2 separate regions of the Homo sapiens genome follow, and region 2 is linked to region 1. The links come from fine-mapping of genetic effects on gene expression. A gene starts in region 1. The other region holds a variant in brackets. All regions are shown on one strand. Distances are between the middles of the regions.

Region 1 (9,207 bases):
ATGACCTAAAGGTGACAGAATCATAGACTCTTAGAGTAAGAATGAGATTTTAGAGGCTTATCTGGTTCAATTCATCTTCTACCAAAGAAATACCCTTCTTGAATGTGTCCAGTGATGTATTCATTTCCCCAAGAGTATTATCCCATTGTTTGCCCATGAATGCTAGCATCATCAAGTAGAACTCTGTTTCTCTGTCTACTCTGTCCATTAAGAGAAAGGGAAGGAAGGGAATGGTGTTCACTTACTGAGCACCGTTTGTGTACCAGACACATGTGAGAGTCTTGGATATGTTACCTCACTTGATTCCTGAAACATCCCTATAAAGTAGATGTTCAATTTACAAACTAAAAAAAAAAAAATAGTTCAGAAAGTTTAAATAATGTGCCCAAATTTACCCATGGTCAGTGGAAGAGTCAAGTCCATGGACTCTCTTTGGTATGCTGAGAGGCCTTGTCTTCCCTGCCTCCTATCTCTCTTCAGTGTAGCTCTTTCAGCAAGCTGTGCTAGAGATTTCCTTTTAAAATAAAAATCTGCTTAAAGGCCTTTGATGGCTCTTCAATACCCACTCAAGGTAAATAGTTCAATACCCACTCAAGGTAAATAGTCCAAGCTCTTTAGCTAATAATCAAGGCCCTTGACAATCTGGCTCCAGTCAAATATTGCAGGCTCACTTCCCTCTTCTTTTCCGATGCATCCTAGGTTTTCCATGAGGATGCCTTTTTGTCTTTGTTCATGCTGTACTTGCTGCCTATGTGTCCTTCCCCTCCTTCTCTGCCTAAAAAAGTCCTAGTTTTCCTTTAAGGTCCACTCAAATGTCACCTTCTTGGTGAAGTCTTCCCCAGTATCTCTGGGCTCAATGAACCCTCCTCTGCCTTCTCCATATTACAGAGGACATTGCAAAGTCCTCTGTAATAGCCTTTTTTGCATTGTCATGGTCCCTTGTAGACTGAGATCCTTAAAGACACGGATTGTACTTTACATTTATTTGCATTCCCAGTTCCTGGCACATAATAGGAGTTCCATAGATATGTGTGGAATAGAATTGAGGCCTAATCCTTTTCCACATGTTAGCCCTTCAATTATCTGAAGACCCTTCTAAGGCCTTGCCCTACCCCACTCTACTCCCATTAGTAGTTATTTCTTCTGCAGGCTAAATGTTCCCAACTCCTTTCAGCTGCTCCTTATAAAGTCTGATTTCCAGATTCCTTATCTGGTCATTTGCTTCTGGGTCATAATTTGTCAACATCACTCTTTTAAAATATAATGCCTAGGACAAACTCAATAGCCCAAAGTCTGGCCATAGCAGAACAAAGTGAGGGGATTCCAAACTGTGATTCCAATCTATGACGTTTTCTTGGCCATTACTGTGTGCCAGGAGGTCTTTCTACTTTATTTTCTTTCAGTCTTCAATAATCTGGTGAGGTAGGTGTCATTTCTTCCATTTTATAGATGAGGATATAAGCCATCTGGTAAGGCACTTTGAGAATAAGTTAAAGTCACAATTCCAGAGCATAAAGCAAACTTGTGATCAACTGATACCTTTAGATCATTCGTACATCAACTGCTGTAAAGTTATTATTTTTTCCAGTTACCGGCTAGTGACAGGCTTAAGGGAAACTGAGGACAAAGAATCAGTACCTTTAGAAGGGTGTGAAACCAAAGCATACAGAAAAGGCAGGTTGGATTAATGACCACCTTCCTAACAATAACAGCCTTTATCTAGGAGCTCAGAGACTGGAATGTCTTAACCACACAGCTTCCTGGAACTATTTTTACTTTGTATTTTACAAGAGGAGAAAGAGCAGAAGCGTCTTAGATAAACAACAAGGTTTGGGCTCAGCACATGTCTGAATCTGAACAGCCAGTGGGGCCCTGTGGTCACAAGGCAGATAATAAGGAGGTTGCCTCTTTGGTCTGTGGCTTGGGTCTGAAAGGGTCCTACTGTGCACATTCATTCTATAAATATAGACTGATCACCAAATGTGTTCCAGGTATGGTGCGAGGTGCTGTGGATGTAATGAAGAACAAAGACAGAGTTCCAATCTGTGGAGCTTACAGTCAGGTGAAAGATAAGCATAAATGAAAATGATATGCACAGATCCTAGTAAATGCAATGATGAATGAAGGTGCCAGGCTACAAGGAGAGCGAAAGGAGGGGCATTTAATTTATCCTGGGGTGAGGATGGAAGAGAAGGTATCAGAGGAAGTTCCTGGGGAAGGTAGTCTTAATTGATGTGTAGGACTTAATGTGGTGAAGGCTCTTATGTATTTCAATGCATCCCCCCCACACCCCGCAACACACATACTTTCTTTAAGCATCAGAAACCATCTTTCCCATTTCCTTTACCAACTCTTCTACTGGGTCATCAACAACATGAAAAAAAACAAAAACAAAAAACAAAACAAAAACTACTGTTTTTGTCAGTTCTGTCAGTGCCAGAATAATCACTCCTTTTTGCTGTAATGTAATGTAGAAAAGAGCAGACCTGGGGTTTCCTAGCATACCTCCTTTAAAAAAAAATTACATCCTGATTAACTTGCCTATTTCTTCCCTCTCCATTGCCTCTGTATTTCTTGGCTTCCCCACACCTGTAACCCAAAGGTCACAGGGTCTGTCATAGCCCAATTCCACTCTCCAGTTGCCTCTTGGTTTTTAACCCCCCTTATTAAAATCCAAACATTAAGCAACTAATAACACCCATGTGTAATTAGTTGTTTAATTGAACAGCACAGAACTGTTAATACATTATGCTGTGCCCTGGAATATTAAGTGGAATAAAAGCAAAGTACTATATTCAAGGAAACTACAGTCTGACTTAAAATACTACAATGGGAAACATTTCACACAGAGATTTTTACCAAGTGACAGTGGAGAGGAGGGAGAAATGAGTTCTTCCTGAGAAGTGTCAGAGAAGTTCTGAGCTGGATCTAAAAAAGAAGCAGGAGGCTGGGTGTGGTGGCTCACGCCTGTAATCCCAGCACTTTGGGAGGCCAAGGAGGGCGGATCACAAGGTCAGGAGATTGAGACCATCCTGGCTAACATGGTGAAACGCTGTCTCTACTAAAAATACAAAAAATTAGCTGGGCGTGGTGGCAGGCGCCTGTAGTCCCACCTACTCAGGAGGCTGAGGCAGGAGAATGGCGTGAACCCGGAAGATGGAGCTTGCAGTGAGCCGAGATCATGCCACTGCACTCCAAACTGGATGACAGAGCGAGACTCCATCTCAAAAAAAAAAAAAAGCAGGAATCCAAAGGACAATATGCATAATATTTATTTATTTTTAGCAGATGTGGGAATATCTCCCTCATGCCAAGCCTTATCTAAGGCTACAGGTGTGAATAAGGTTCCTGATCTCAAGACGCTTTCAGCCTAGAAAAGAGGTTTAGAAATATACTCCAATAATGGCAACATATATGGTGCCATGGACAGAGTTACAGAACAAACTGCTAGGGGAATTCATAGAGAAAATGTTCAAGAGAACATTTCTCACTGGACGTAGTAGGCAGAATTCTAAGGTAGCTTCCTAGATTAACCTTCATGTACACCTTCTGCATAGTCCCTGGGACAGTGGCTATGATGAATTTTACTCCTGTGATTAGGGTATGTGATGTGGCACAGGTGATCTTAAAGTAGGAAGATTATCTAGGTGGGTCTGACCTAATTACAAGTCTTTTAAAAGCTCATAGTGTTCTCTGACTGGTTGAAGAAGGGAAATCAGAGATATTTAAAGAATGAGAGGGAGTGACATGAGAAAGGTTCTCTGTTGATGAGATAAAAGGGATCACGTGGCAAGGACCTGAGAGTGGTCCCCAACAGAGAGCTGGCAAAACAGTGTAGCTGTGGGATCCTAGTCCTACAGGGACATGAATTCTGCCAACAGCCCGAAGGAGCCTGGGGCAGACCTTTCCCTCGTGGAGGTGCTAGACATCTTGATTTCAGCCTATGACACCACGAGCAGAAAACCCAGCCACACCATGCCAGTTTTCCGACCTACACAACTGTGAGTAAATCAATGGGTGTTGCTTTAAGCTGCAAAATTTGTGCCAATTTGTTATGCAGGAATAGAAAACTAATATGAGCACTTACAACACTGTGCTCTCATTAGCTATTGACATAATAGTTTCCCCAAATATGGGCTCCTTAGATTTAGGCTCTAATTATCCTTGTAACCTCAGGGCTCTTCATGAGACAGGTACTCCCCAAAACGCCATGGAATGAAAGTTTAAATTAGACAACAGGGATGCAGATCAGAACCTGGATAGATTCTGACCATTTCCATTTCTCAAGAATGGGCAGACGGATACTGACACCAATACCAGGATACAAGGAGGCGGCCCCCCTTCAGTCCAAAGCTCTAAGACCTATTCTAGAGGCAAGGCAAGTAATCCAGGCTCAGCTGCCCCATCTGCTGCTCCAGCCTTGCTTAAGTGGACTTCCCTCCAAGGAACATTGTTCACAGAAGGATCATTAACAAGACATTCCTGTGTGACCTGAGGATTGCCATGTTCTAAATGATGCCCACACCCACTCCACATCCAGCTCAGCAGAGGTCTCGGGATTTATATTGCACTGTATTTTCAAGCAGCCAAAACAGAAGTCAAGACGTCAGTTTCCTAAGCTGCTAAAATGATGTGGTGGTTAAACCAATTGTGTGCCAGGCGCAGTGGCTCACGCCTGTAGTCCCAGCGCTTTGGGAGGCTGACGCAGGAGGATCACTTGAGCCCAGTAATTTGAGGTTACAGTGAGCTATGATGGCGCCACTGCACTCCGACCTTGGGGACAAAGTGAGGCTCCATCTCTAACAAAACAAAAATAGAATTGTGTAGCCAACATGGCTGGTGGGCCTGGAAGAATGAGCCTGTGCATTGTACCTGGCCCATCACGGGCTCAGTGCGTACTCGTTGAAGGGATCACCACAGGGAGGACCGAGGACGCTGACACTCCCTAGGGCATCCAAGCACCAACTCATCTCTCACCTACCCTCCGGGTGCAGTGCTATCGTGTTGGAGAAGAGGCCCCTGGGTGGCTGTGCGAAGTAACTCGCCCAAGGTCACCACACGGCCAGCCACTAGCCCGGCGGGAGTCGCCCGAGGCGAGGCCCACGTCAGCCGGTCTTGGGGGCCCGACCGGTGGCTCCTCCACCAGCCCCACGCGGCCTCAGAGCGGGCTACTGGCGTCCTCGAGATTCGAACCCGAGTCCTCGGCCTCGTCCCCGCCCTCGCGCCCTCTCAGGCCTCAGTTTTCCCATCTACAGGACGCAGACCGGAGAGCTGGTCCGGGCGCCAACTGGGCCCCCGGACCCGGGTCGGCAGGCCGGCGGGGTACGGCCGGGCCGGGTTCCCGCGCGCCCTCCCTCCTCCAGCGCGCCGCCCCGCCCCCCGCGCGAGCCCAACGGCCGAGGCGCGCGCCACCTCGCAGCGGGAGGCGCGGGGGAGGGGCCGGGGGAGCCCCCGCCCCGCCCCCCGCCTCAGCCGCCACCGCCAGCTCGGTGGAGCCCCCCGCCGCCCGCCCGCCGCTCTCCCGAGCCGCCCGCCCGCCCCCTTCCCGCGTCTCCGCTCCCTCCCTGCGCAGCGGAAACATGGCGGCGGGAAGAGAGTGAGCCGCCCCGCGCCCCCGCCGCGCCCTCAGGTAAGCGCCTCGCGGCCGCCTCCGCCCGCCTAAGAGCTCGTGCCCTGAGGGGCCGCCTGGGGCCAGAAGGCGGTGGCGGGACCTGCGCAGCCGCTGCGCCTGCTCCCCCGGGCCGGGGTCAGCCTGTCCGTCTGTCTGGCCGGCCTGCCAGTCTGTGGTCCGCGCGGGGCTGGGCCCTTTCTCGGCCGTGTCAGCCCGGCCCCGAGCCCGGAGGCCGGCTCTGCATCTGCGGTCGGGCGGGCGGGGCCCACGGTCCGGTCGCGGCCCTGACGCCGCCAGGACTGCCCGGGGGCCCCGGCACGGGAAACCCAAGGCCGGGGGCCCTTTGGAGGGTCGGCGTGGGGGCGGTCCGTATAGGTCGCCGTGTCTGGCCGGCGGGGCCGGGTGGGCCGGGGCAGGCTGGCTGGGGGCCGAGGGCCGGGCGGCGGCGCGACCCCGTCTGCGCGGGTCAGTCGGTCCCCTCCGGCGCCAGAGGTGGGAATGCCTGTGATTCTGGCTGGCCGGGTCCCGGTTCGGGGAAGGCAGAGACAGAGGTCGACGGGGCGGCGTGGCCCCCACCGAGAGCTGGGGCGCCTAGGGCCCGGAGCTGTCAGCAGCGTCCTGGGGGCTGGGCCCCGGCTGGCCGACTCACGTGTGCCGCCTGCCCCAGTGCCCCGCCGGAAACGGGCAGGGAGAGCGGCCCCGCACCGAAGTGAGCCACAGCGGCCCTGGGGGCCAGACACGTGGGCACAGTTGTGTGCCAGCCCGAGAGCATCGAAAGTGGTATCCAGCCGATGGGTGAACCCCGGAATATCTCCTGACTGGAAGAGAATTTAAAAGTCATCTAGGGGCGCTTTCTCCCATCCCATGCCAAAGTGACTTTGAAAATCCCCAAATCCCCCCGATAATTTGACGAGCCCGTTTGGAACCTCTTCCAGTGATCCGAAGCGAATCTCTTTAAAGGAAACCCATTCTGTTCCTGGACACATTTGGTTATAAGTTGAAAGAAACAGCTGGCTCCCATCCTTCCTAGTTCTTTTCCCTTATGGGAAGCTGTTAAGATATCTGAAGATAGTAATCATGTCCCCTGAGTCTTCACTTCCACTTTCTTCAGTTGTCTCTCATCTGCTGTGGTTCTCTAAACTGTCCTCTGGATGAGCTTTAGTTTCCCCCATCCCCTTAAAGGAGAGTTTCTTAAAAGTGATCCTGGAGACAAAACGTAGTAAGTTTCTCTAAGAAACAGCCCCAAGGATTGACCTGCTTAAATCAAAAGTACTCTAGATTCCCTTCCTCATTTCTGTACTGTATTTTGAACTTAAAAAAAAAAAAAAAAGAAAACATTTAGTAGTGTTTGTTCAAACAAACTAAAAGACATCTTATTTTGTGGAAATTTGGGGGTTTCCTTCCTTTTAAAAAATGTCTATAAACACTTTATCAAATGTTGCTAACTAATGTACATCAAAATGTTTTGTTGAAGTGTAATGTGCCAGGCAAATAGAATAGCTCTTTTTTTTTTTTTAAACTCTGAAAAGGATTGAGACCTAGTTTAGTGCCAAACTGCAATTTTAATATTTGGTTGCAGAGGGAAATGCTTTATTACATTGAACTCTTTGCTCTAGTTCTAACTGCCAGCAGGAGGCCCAAAATTACTATGAAAGAGAACACTTTTTGTTGCTTACTTACCAACCTCCTAAACTCTTGCCTAAGCAACTCTGCAGGTTAGTAATGTTTTAAGCCCAGTAGAGATGAGATGGCCTTGTAGATAAAAGGCCAGGCTCTTACATCTGGGATCCTGTTTAAGTACTAAGCAAAGTTTCAGTGTTTTTACAACTTAGACAAGCACATACCAGCAGTCAGAATTGGTTCTTTATTTTTGTTCTTAAGCCTTCATTTTTTAAATTGGTCAATAGTTTTGAACTTTGTAGCACATATGTCAAGTTTTGATTTTAGGTATGTTTGTGCAAATGTTGTTCCCTTTTATGTAAGTTGGGTAAACATTTGCATAGCACCATTCTCAATGGAACTATACAGATCCAGAGGAAAGGCCCTGATTCCTTCCTTGCAAAGGACTTGGAGTGAAAGGTAGAGGATACTTAACTATGAGAAAGAATTGATGTGAATATCCCACTGAAAATTTAAACTTAGGGCTGGATGCAGGGGCTCATGCCTATAATCCCAGCACTTTGGGAAGCTGAGGCAGGCAACTCTTTGAGGCCAGGAGTTCTGGACCAGCCTGGGCTACGTAGCAAGACCCTGTCTCTACAAAAAATAAAAATAAAAATATAGCTGGGCATGATGGTGTATGTCTGTAGTCTCAGCTACTCAGGAGGCTGAGGCAGGAGGACCGTTTGAGTCAAGGAGTTTGAGGCTTCAGTGAGCCATGATCACGCCATAGCAAGTGACAGAATGAGACCCCATCTTTTAAAAAAGAAAAGAAAATTGGTATGTTCTAACCTTCACTGTACACTTATGTACCTACTATGGGTCAAGCACTATGCTATGTACTGTGCTCAGCTGGGTTTACAAAGATTTCCAATCTTGTGGAGCTGGTAAATTAGATGCTTAAATAGATTATCTCAGAATAAAAGATGAGAACTACGCATAGCTGAGATATACAAGGTGAGAGTAAAGGTTGCCCAAAGGTGAGGGCACTTAGACTAGCCTAGGAGTTAAAGGAAGGCTTTGGGAAGAGATGATATCTGACCCAAATCTTAAATGGTAGGTAGGAGTAAGTGAGGCAAACATGAGCAGAAAGCGTCCTTCAAACAGAGAAAACAGCTTGAGCAAAGGCATCAATGTGAGAAAAGGAATGGCTTGCGTAGAGAACCACAAACAGTTTGGGACTGCTAGGAATATAACAATAAGTGATGAGTTGTAAGGCTGGAAATACAGTCAGAGGCCATGTCGTGGTGGACCTTGTATGCATAAGTATCCTAAAATCAATTCAGTAGGTGTTTTTTTTTTATTTTTATTTAATCACTGGAAGGTGTCTATCAGACATGGTTGAAGTAACATTTTTAAAATGTGGTCATAGGGATGAAGAGAAAGAAATGAATCTGAGAAAATGTATAAGGCTTTAATGATTGATTGTATGTGCAGGTGAGAGGGTGAGGAGTCCCGTGTGATGCTCAGGTTTTTGCCTTGGATGACTAAGGAGGATATGTTGGTAATTTTAACTGAGACAGGAAACGATGATGAGTTCAATTCTGGACTTGAAGATTTTCAATTTCTTGAGTTAGATCAGTGAGCAAATATAGTGGAAGTAAGCTGAGAAAAAAAAGAGGTGTGGTCAGAAAGTGGAATATCGGAGTTAAGTTGTCTGATATTGGGACTGTTCTAGGTGACAGCGAGGTCTCTGTGTATGGGTAGCTAAAATACAGCAGAGGCGAAGGTCAGTAAAGCTGAGTATGACAAGGAATTTGGAGGCTAGTGTATTGAATGAGTCATCTGTGTAGAGAGTGAAGTGATTGAGGATGATGGGATGTGGGGAAGAGAGAAAGATGTGACCCAGGTGCAGTAAAGATAGGGGATTAATCAGGAGGGTGGTAGATGACAGATGAGGAGGTGGGGTAGAGAGTTATATAGCCAGATGGTGCAAA
Region 2 (9,207 bases), 120 kb after region 1:
TCTCGCCACTGAATTTCAGCCTGGGGGACAAAGCAAAACCCTGTCTAAAAAAAATATATAGAAGGAATGAGAGAAAATTACTTTTTTGCAACTATTTTAATAATTGAGTCAGGCAAGAGTAACCAATAAATGCTTAAACTATTAGGTAAAAAAACATACTGAGGAATAGGATGTTCACAGTCTCAAAGTTTCTCTCCACTGATTGCCTGTAAATTACAAAGGGAAATTACAGTGAAGAACACTGTCAATCACCTCTTAACATGTGATCAAATTTTGTATCTTCAGTAATTAGACAAACTGACATTATGTGCCTCCTGCAGTATTGCAATGAGAAATACTCCACATCACCTGTATAATATTTTTTATCAAATCTCTTTAGCAGGCCAGGCCTAGCAGTTTATGCCTGTAATCAGAGCCAGCACTTTGGGAGGCTGAGGCGGAATGATTACTTGAGGCCAGAAATTCAAGACCAGCCTGGGCAATATAGCAAGTCCCCCATCACTACAAAAAATAGAAAAATTGGCCAGGTGTGGTGGTGCACACCCTTAGTCCTAGTTGCTCAGGGGGATCACCTGAGCCCAGGAGTTGAAGGCTGCTGTGAGCCATGATTGCACCACTGCACACCAGCCTGGGCAACAGAGAAAGACCCTGTCTCAAAATAAATAAATAAATAAATAAATAAATAAATAAGCTCTTCAGCATGAATGTAATTATGAGGAAACGATCAGAAGAAGTCCAAACTGTGGGACATTCTGTAAAACAATCCAGACTCTTCAAAAATGTCAGTGTCATACAAAGCAAACAAAAGGCAACAGGACTATTATACATGAATTCTACATTAAAGGAGACTGAAGAAACATGACAACCAATTGCAGTATGTGATTCTTGATTGGATCCTGTATTTAAAAATCAACAGTTTTAAAGAACATTTTAGGGACAAATGAGAATATTTTTAATTAAATTTCCTGAGTGTGATAATACTGCAATTTTGTAGGGGAATGTCTTTTTTCAAATATACTGATATATTTAGGGGTGAAGTGTCGTAACATCTCCAACTTTCATATAGTTCAGGGGTGGAAGCATTAATATATGTAGATGAAAAGCAGATGTGGGAAAATGGTAATAGTTGTTGAATCTAGTTGAAGGGTACATAATTGTTCATTATATAGTTTTTGCTATTTTCTCTAGGTTTATAACTTTTCAAAATAAAATTAAAAAAATAAAATTATTTATATATAATTGTACATATGTTTGTGTGTCCATGTTCCCCAGGCCTTCTCTGGACTTCTTTCTAGAGTTGCTGAATCAGAAGCTCTAGGTAATGGGGCTTGGGATTCTGCATGGCAAAATGGCTCTCCTGAGATACTGACACAACTGGTCTATATTTGGAAAACATTGCTCTGGAAGAGCATCCTTTTCCATTAAAATCTTGCATGGTGTATATGTATACGTATGTGTGTTCTGTTCTCATAAGGGATATTACTCTTTTGCAGTGGAGTCCTCCAAGGATAAAACATGTAGTAGAGTAGAATGATTCTCCTCAGTTATCTCAAAGCTGCCACTCTTCTCCTCACAGCTCCCTGTTATTACTGACTGATTCTTCTACTTAATACTGTGATTGTTTCTTCTAAAGAGGGCTGTCTAGAGCATAGTTCTCAAACTTGGCTACCTGTTAAAATCACCTAGGGAGCTCTTAAAATTTTCAGGGTCTAGGCCTTAACTTCAGATCAGTTAAATAGGGATTTCTGGGAGTGGATCTGATGTATTCTTTAATGTTCCCTAGGGGATTCCAGTCCAAGTTTGAGAGTCACTGAGCTGGAGTAGAAGCTAGCCTTTAATGAGGCCCCTAGTCAAGTGAGTCACGATCTCAGTGTAAACTGCTTACCCAGCAAATTTGGTCACATGCTTTAGTATATACAGTAACTTCAAAGGAATCCTTTGTATGTTTCTGTCACTGATCAATTCCTGGTGTGAATGCTCTTCTGTTACCTGCCACCAGAGGGCATGGACTATGATTAGATTATAGTCCTGCTGCTCCACATGTATGTATGTATGTATTGAGGCAGAGTCTCGCTGTGTCACTCAGGCTGGAATGCAGCGTCACAATCATAGCTCACTGCAGCCTCGACATCCCCAGGCTACAGCAGTCATCCTGCATGAGCCTTCCACGTAGCTGGGACTACAAGCACACACCACCACACCCAGCTAATTTTTTGTATTTTTTGTAGAAACAGGGTCTCACTGTGTTGCCCAGGCTGGTCTTTAAATTTTGGGCTGAAGTGATCCTCCTGCGTCAGTCTCCCAAAATGCTGCGATTACAGGTGAAAGCCACTGTGCCCGGCCTGCAGCTCCACTCTTAAATCCAGTTTCATCAGCTGGCCAGTTTAAAGAGATGGACCCTAGCTTATCCAGTGGTCCCATAGTCTTGGGAGCACCTAGAAGCACTTTAGAAGTGGTTCTTTATGAAGTTTTAAAAAATGAATCCTTGGTAAACACAGAGCACTTGCAGCCTGTGTTTGGAATTAAAAGAGATCTGACTTTGTAATATTAACTTAGCCACTCACTACCTTAGTTGTGTGACTACTGGTAAGTTGCTTTACCTTGACTTGTAACGTTGAGTTTCAGTGCCCTTACCTGCAAGATGATTAATAAATTCTTCCCCATGTTGTTTTTGTGGATTAAGTGGAATAACATAATAAAGCGTTCATCAATTCTTGGCACCCATTTAATAAATGGAGGGTTTTTTCCTTAATTCAATAAAACTATCAAGGATTTTGTATTCTAGTTGGAGAAGACATACACATTAAACTTTTTAAAAAGAAAATTCAGATGGTGATAGGGGCTAGGAATAAATAAGAAGGAAGCAGGATAGATTTAGGAGTCTATTTTGGGTAAAGTAGTCAAGGAACACCTTTCTGAGGAAGTGATGTCTCAGCAAATAACTAACTGTAAAGAGTTGATTAAAAGGTGTTTGAGGCAGAGGGAAACAGCTTGGTATATTTGAGAACAGAAAGACCAATGAATAGGGGTACAAGGGAGTGATAAGAGATGAGTAATGAGGAGTAAGCAAGGTCCAGATCATGTAAGCCTTGTAAACATGAATAATAAAGAGTTTAGATCTGTTTTGTGTTGTGAAATTTGAGCATAAGGTAATGTGACCTGATTTATATTTTTAAAAACATAACCATATTATTCTGGCTGCAAAAGTAGAGGGCTGAGGTCCAGTTAGAAGGCTGTTGGAGTTGTCTAGGCAAAGTTTGACTCTGGCTTAAATTAGGGTAATATAGCAGTAGAGATGGTGAAATGTGGGTCGATCTAGCATATATTAAGTGGGAAAGCCATCAAGACTTGCTGATTAATTGGGTTTGGTGGGTGATAGAAAGGGAAGAATCAAGGATGACTTCTAGTCTTTTAGGTCTGAGCACCTGGGTTTAATAAGGGGTGCCACCTATTAAACTGAGATGGGATAACTGGAGGAAAGAACAAGTTTGGAGGGAATAGTAGAATCAAGAGTACTGTCTTAAACTTATTCATTTTACG[T/A]TTTCTTAGACATCCAAGTAGAGTTATAGACTGAGGTAGTTGGATATATGAACATGAAACCCTGAGCAGAGGTTTTGGCTAGATATATAAATTGACAGTCATCATTTAACAGGAAGAAAGTGGGGACCAAGAAGAAGACAGAAGCAATGACTGAGCACTGAGGTGCTCTACATTTAGAGATTAGGATTTCCTCTTACCCACCTGTCCTTTTCCTTATAGACAGCCTAGGTCGTTGCCTAATTTGAATAGAGCCTCAAATTACTGTTTTCATCTTCCTTCTTTTCTCTCTTTCACAAGTTTATGACTCCAACCCTTCTTACCTAGAGACAGTGTGGTAGGACTGAGTGATAAAATATTTGACGATATTAATGTGATGATTAGTTATGAAAGCTCTGGAGACGGAGTAGTTGGGTTCAAATCCTGGCTCTGCTATTTACTAACTTACTAACTTTGGATATTTTACTTAATTTCTCTAAGCCTCAGTTTTTTCATCTATAGTTACAAAAATAATAGCCAATGTTTATCTAACTCCTGCCTGTATGCCAGGCAGTGTTTTAAGTCCTTTGCATGTATTAGCCTATTTAATCTTTAGAACAACCCATTGATTCTTATCCCATGCTGTTGTTGAGGAAACTGAAGCTAGAGAGAGGTTTTGTAATTTTCCAAAAGTTATGTACCTGGTAAGTGGCAAAGCTGGATTTAAATTCAGGCAGTCTGGCACCAGAAACTGCTACTCCTCTAGTATCTGATTCAGAATAGTAGTAGTGATCCACTGCAAATGCTTAGCACAAGGAGCTGGCTCATGATATGTGTACAATAAATGTTAACTTTTGGAGGCAACATAGTGTAATAAAAGAGATAGTGTAATAAACATAGTGTAATAAAAGAGAACCAAATAAGAAGTCCTGGGGTTCCAGCCTGACAGTGTAAGATTGGCTTGTGTGACCATGAACAAGTTTCTTAGCCTCTCTGGACTTCAGTTTCATCATCTGCAATGTAAGATCTTTGTACTTCATGGCCTCTGAGGTCCCTTTCAATGTTAAAATTATCTACTATCTATGATTGCCCAAGAATATTGAGGTAAATTATGGATATACTTGAATTTGAAGGGATAGAGTCCCACATCACCTAGCGGATTGAGGAATAAGATACCTTAGCAATTTCTTGGGTTCAAAATATTTCTGCTTTGCCCCTGTACTCTTGAAGAATCCTGCTGGTAGTGAAACATAGTAAAGAACCACAAAGTTTGGTATCCAACCACCATATATTGAAATCTGTCTCCGGCATTTACTAGCATGACCCTAGACAAGCTGCTTCTCTGAGTTTTCATTTTTTATCATCTGTAGAGTAGGGATAATAATAGTGCCTGCCCATGTTATTTCAAATATTGAGTAAGAAATGGCATATAAAATGTTTAATACATGGTAAGCATTCAATATATATTAACTATTATGATAATATTGTAATGATTTCCAAAGCTGAGAGGATTTTTTAGCTCCTTAAGCTTCAGATGAGATAGAAACCCCCCAGTAACCCCTACCTCAAAAATGGAATTGGGAATTACATGGCTAGGCACTCTAGTCATTGATAACTATAGGCATTAAACCTGAATTTTCTAATTGTGCAGGCCTCCCTATACCAAGGTGTATAGACCACTTCTCTAAAACAGTAGTGCCTTGCTTTACCTTATCCATAGGTGTACCAAACCACTCATGGCAAAGCTGCTCTGGGTTTGGCTTGCTTCAGCCCTTCCCTGACCTAAGGAGAGTTGTTTTCCCACATAAACACCACGCTTGAATTTCTGGAGGGATTTAATTTTTTTAAACCATTGTCAAAAGAAGAGTAGCAGTTAAAAACCCAGCTCAAACCAGATTAGAGAGGGAAAAAAGGAGGAGGCAGGAATTATTAACTCATATAACCAAGAAGTCCAAGGATTTATCTGGTGTTGAGTGTCTGAGTACTGGGTTTTAAACACTATTATGTGTCTCCATCCCATGCTGTACTTTGGCTTTATTCTCAGGTCTGTTCTCCATGTAGCAGTGCCCAAACTGCAAACATCCTTATGGGCATGTTCTCAGACAAAGAAAGATGTTCTTCTCCAACGTCAATCTCATGTCAAAAAACAACTGGCCTAACATGGGACATAGACACATATACACTCTTGGTCTAGGGGAATTTGATGCTCTTAAACAGCATTGTGTTTTACCCCAAGGCCAGGTAGGTAAGGACCACATATGTGGTTGACGTGCCCACCAAATCATGTGGAGTTACGGTGGGGTTTTTTTTTTTTTGTTTTTTTTTTGCCCTAAAGGGAAAAAAAAGCTGGGCAAGCAAAAAGGAAGTGATGGCAGTTTTAGATTGAGTGATAGGAAAGTCCACATTGCTGTTGATATGGATGGGCTGTCCCAAGAAATCTCTTTACCTTGGGAAGGCTGGCTTAGCCTAGCCAGCTTTGGGACTAAAAGTTTAAATAGTATGGAGTGGTAACTCTTTTTTTATTTGCATTTCCTTGTCACCTCCTCCTCCTAACTTTAATTACAGTTGTTAATTGATACTTTTTTCCAAAAGCTGAATCTTCCCTTTTCATTTTACCCATACATTGCCAGTTTTAAAGTGTGGGCTCAGGAGTCAGATTGCCTGAATTTTAATCCTGTCTTTTCGTTTGCTCACTTTGAAATCTTAAGCAATTTATTTAACTTCAAATAAATTGTACCTGTTTCCTCATCTATAAAATGAAGATAATATCTACCTCCTAGGGCTGTCTTGAGGATTAGATAGTCAATAGAAAGTGATTGGCATAGTGAACAGTAAAGTGCTCAATAACATCAGATACTGCTGCTGCTGTTATTTCCAGCTTTGCAGCTTGGGTGCAGCTTATCTGTTCTTTTGTTTGGAGTGGGAAGGCTGAGGTAGTTTGGGAAATGCTCAAAAAACATTAGGTTTTGTTATCTCAGGATGCAGAGTTGAAGCAAATTGAAAGAAGCACTTGGGGCTCTAATTGGAAGACCTAACTGTAATAATGATCTTATTTTTACAATTCATTGATAGGTGATAATGGACAGTTAACCTCTCTAGGCTTCTTTTTACTCTTTTGCAAAATGAAGATTTTTGGATAGGACAATCCTTTCCAATGTCATTCCTTGGTCCTTAGTTGTTTAAGTAAACAATGAACTTCAGAAAGTATTTTGTACTTGGTGTGTGTATGTGTGCAAGACAGAAAGTGATAAGAGAAGTAGTGAGTTAGTTTACATTGAGAGGAACCAAAATGATTTACTTATATATTGGGTTTATCGGTTGACATGTTTGGTTTCTTCTTAAGAGATTATTAGATCCCCTTTCATACTCTACTGTCCAGATCATCTCTAAGTATTCGTTAATCCTATCACATCTTTTTTGGATTTTTCAAATGCCTAGAAAGTTTTCTAGGCATTACGTTATGTGTTCTGTAGTACTTGTCTTAGGAAACTTGGTTTGGAGACTCTGTCCCACTATTTACTTTACAGCATTACCTTGGACAAGTTACATTCTCTCTTATGTGCCTCATTTTCTTCATCTGTCTAATGAGGTGTTTCTCCTTTTTAACCCTTAAGTCCTTTCTTAACAGTCTGTGATTCTGTAACTATCACAGCATAGGAGTAGCTGGATTCTAAAGGCTGAACTTGATATCATAATGTAGAGTCCAGCCCCACAGGGTTGGTGGGTTTTCTCCCTGTGTGCGGAGACAAGAGAGTGTAGAAATAAAGACACAAGACGAAGAGATAAAAGACAGCTGGGCCCAGGGGGACCACTGCCACCAAGACACAGAGACCAGTAGTGGCCCTGAATGCCAGGCTGCGCTGATATTTATTGGATACAAGACAAAGGGGCAGGGTAAGGAGTGTGAGCCGTCTCCCATGATAGGTAAGGTCACGTGGGTCACGTGTCCACTGGACAGGGGGCCCTTCCCTGCCTGGCAGCCGAGGCAGAGAGAGAGAGAGGAGAGAGAGAGAGACAGCTTACGCCATTATTTCTACTAATCAGAGACTTTTAGTACTTTCACTAATTTGCTACTGCTAACTAAAAGGCAGAGCCAGGTGTACAGGATGGAACATGAAGGCGAACTAGGAACATGACCACTGAAGCACAGCATCACAGGGAGACAGTTAGACCTTTGGATAACTGCAGGCGGGCCTGACTGACGTCAGGCCCTCCGCAAGAGGTGGAGGAGTAGAGTCTTCTCTAAACTTCCCCGGGGAAAGGGTGACTCCCTTTCCCGGTCTCTAAGTAATGGGTGTTTTTCCTTGACACTGACGCTACCACTAGACCACGGTCCGCTTGGCAACGGGCGTCTTCCCAGACGCTGGTGTTACCGCTAGACCAAGGAGCCCTCTGGTGGCCCTGTCCGGGCATAACAGAAGGCTCGCACTCTTGTCTTCTGGTCACTTCTCACTATGTCCCCTCAGCTCCTATCTCTGTATGGCCTGGTTTTTCCTAGGTTATGATTGTAGAGCGAGGATTATTATAATATTGGAATAAAGAATAATTGCTACAAACTAATGATGAATGATATTCATATATAATCATATCTATGATCTATATCTAGTATAACTATTCTTATTTTATATATTTTATTATACTGGAAGAGCTCGTGCCCTCGGTCTCTTGCCTCGGCACCTGGGTGGCTTGCCACCCACATCACCATTCATTTTTGAAACATACTTTTAATCTGTTGCCCATTATGCTTGCTGCAGGATTTCGGCTGAATGCGTCTTCTTGGCCCATGTTCCTTTTGAAGACGCTAAATGGAGCAGAGATGGCTCCCATCAGGATTTTCCACAAGGTAGGCTATCCCTCAGATATCACCAGCTCCAGGCTGCTTAAGGTCAAATATTGAGACTTTGATGTCCACATTTACTTATGGCCTGAAGATGCCTTCTCAGAAATTAGTTCAGAAGGATTTTTTAGTAGCTTATGAAGCAGCAATTATCCCCAGAGGAATATATTAGACTATAAGGTCCCATAGATTAGATTATATGGTCCCAGCTTCCAGTAATCTCTGTTTACCTGTCGGGCTTGTTAAGAAGTTAAAATGTATTATTAGTAGAATATGTTAAATGTAATACAAATCTAAAGGCGCTATTCTTATTATAGATCTTGGAGTTCTGTAGAGTTCATGTTCTAAACAGAGAAAAGAAGGAGACTTTTTTTATTGCCTACGATATGTTTGGGACTTTATATATACTATCTCATGTAATACCCACAGCTAACTTTATGAACTAAGAATTATTATTTCCATTTAATAGTTAAGGAAACAAATACTTTTGAATTAGGAGCTTGCTCAAGATCACGTGGCTAGTAAGCGGCAGAACAGGGATCCAAAACCTGTATTTGTTATTGCTTCTCAAGAAGTGAGGCAGTGAGTCTATCAGTTGAATTTTCTAATGGGGTAAAAGTTACTGTAAAGGGTATTAAATTAGGTTTGCCTATGCTGCTAGTTAAGTCTCAACACTAAGAGCATCCTGCTTCTGAATTACCTAGCACTTATGTAACTCAGGAGTAGTTCTTGTATTCTTTGGGACTAGAAATAAAGATGAGTTTTAGACTTTGTTATGCCAGCTGTGCAGTAAAGGGATCTACCAAAAGACTCCAAGTAGAATGTTTAACTTCCGGATCAGTGGAGGGGGAAAA

Evidence for each region. PIP is the estimated chance that this variant, and not a neighbour inherited with it, causes the effect. A credible set is the group of variants that fine-mapping cannot tell apart.
Region 2: its variant is the best candidate, but not a certain one, in a credible set for the expression of SCMH1 in whole blood (INTERVAL, PIP 0.76).

Annotation. Positions count from the first base shown.
Region 1 is chr1:41,238,481-41,247,687 of GRCh38, reverse strand. It overlaps SCMH1 (Scm polycomb group protein homolog 1), which reads left to right and starts at 5,382. Exons shown (of 16, transcript NM_001394311.1): 1 at 5,382-5,629. It overlaps SCMH1-DT (SCMH1 divergent transcript), which reads right to left and starts at 5,330. Exons shown (of 3, transcript NR_186015.1): 1 at 4,982-5,330. RefSeq lists silencers at 5,072-5,471, 5,512-6,061, 6,162-6,321 and an enhancer at 6,642-6,821.
Region 2 is chr1:41,116,074-41,125,280 of GRCh38, reverse strand. It overlaps SCMH1 (Scm polycomb group protein homolog 1), which reads left to right. Exons shown (of 16, transcript NM_001394311.1): 7 at 8,271-8,359. Among named protein-coding and RNA genes, the nearest start is that of SLFNL1, 99 kb to the right of the region's middle. The variant T/A (reference allele first, on the strand shown) is at 3,541.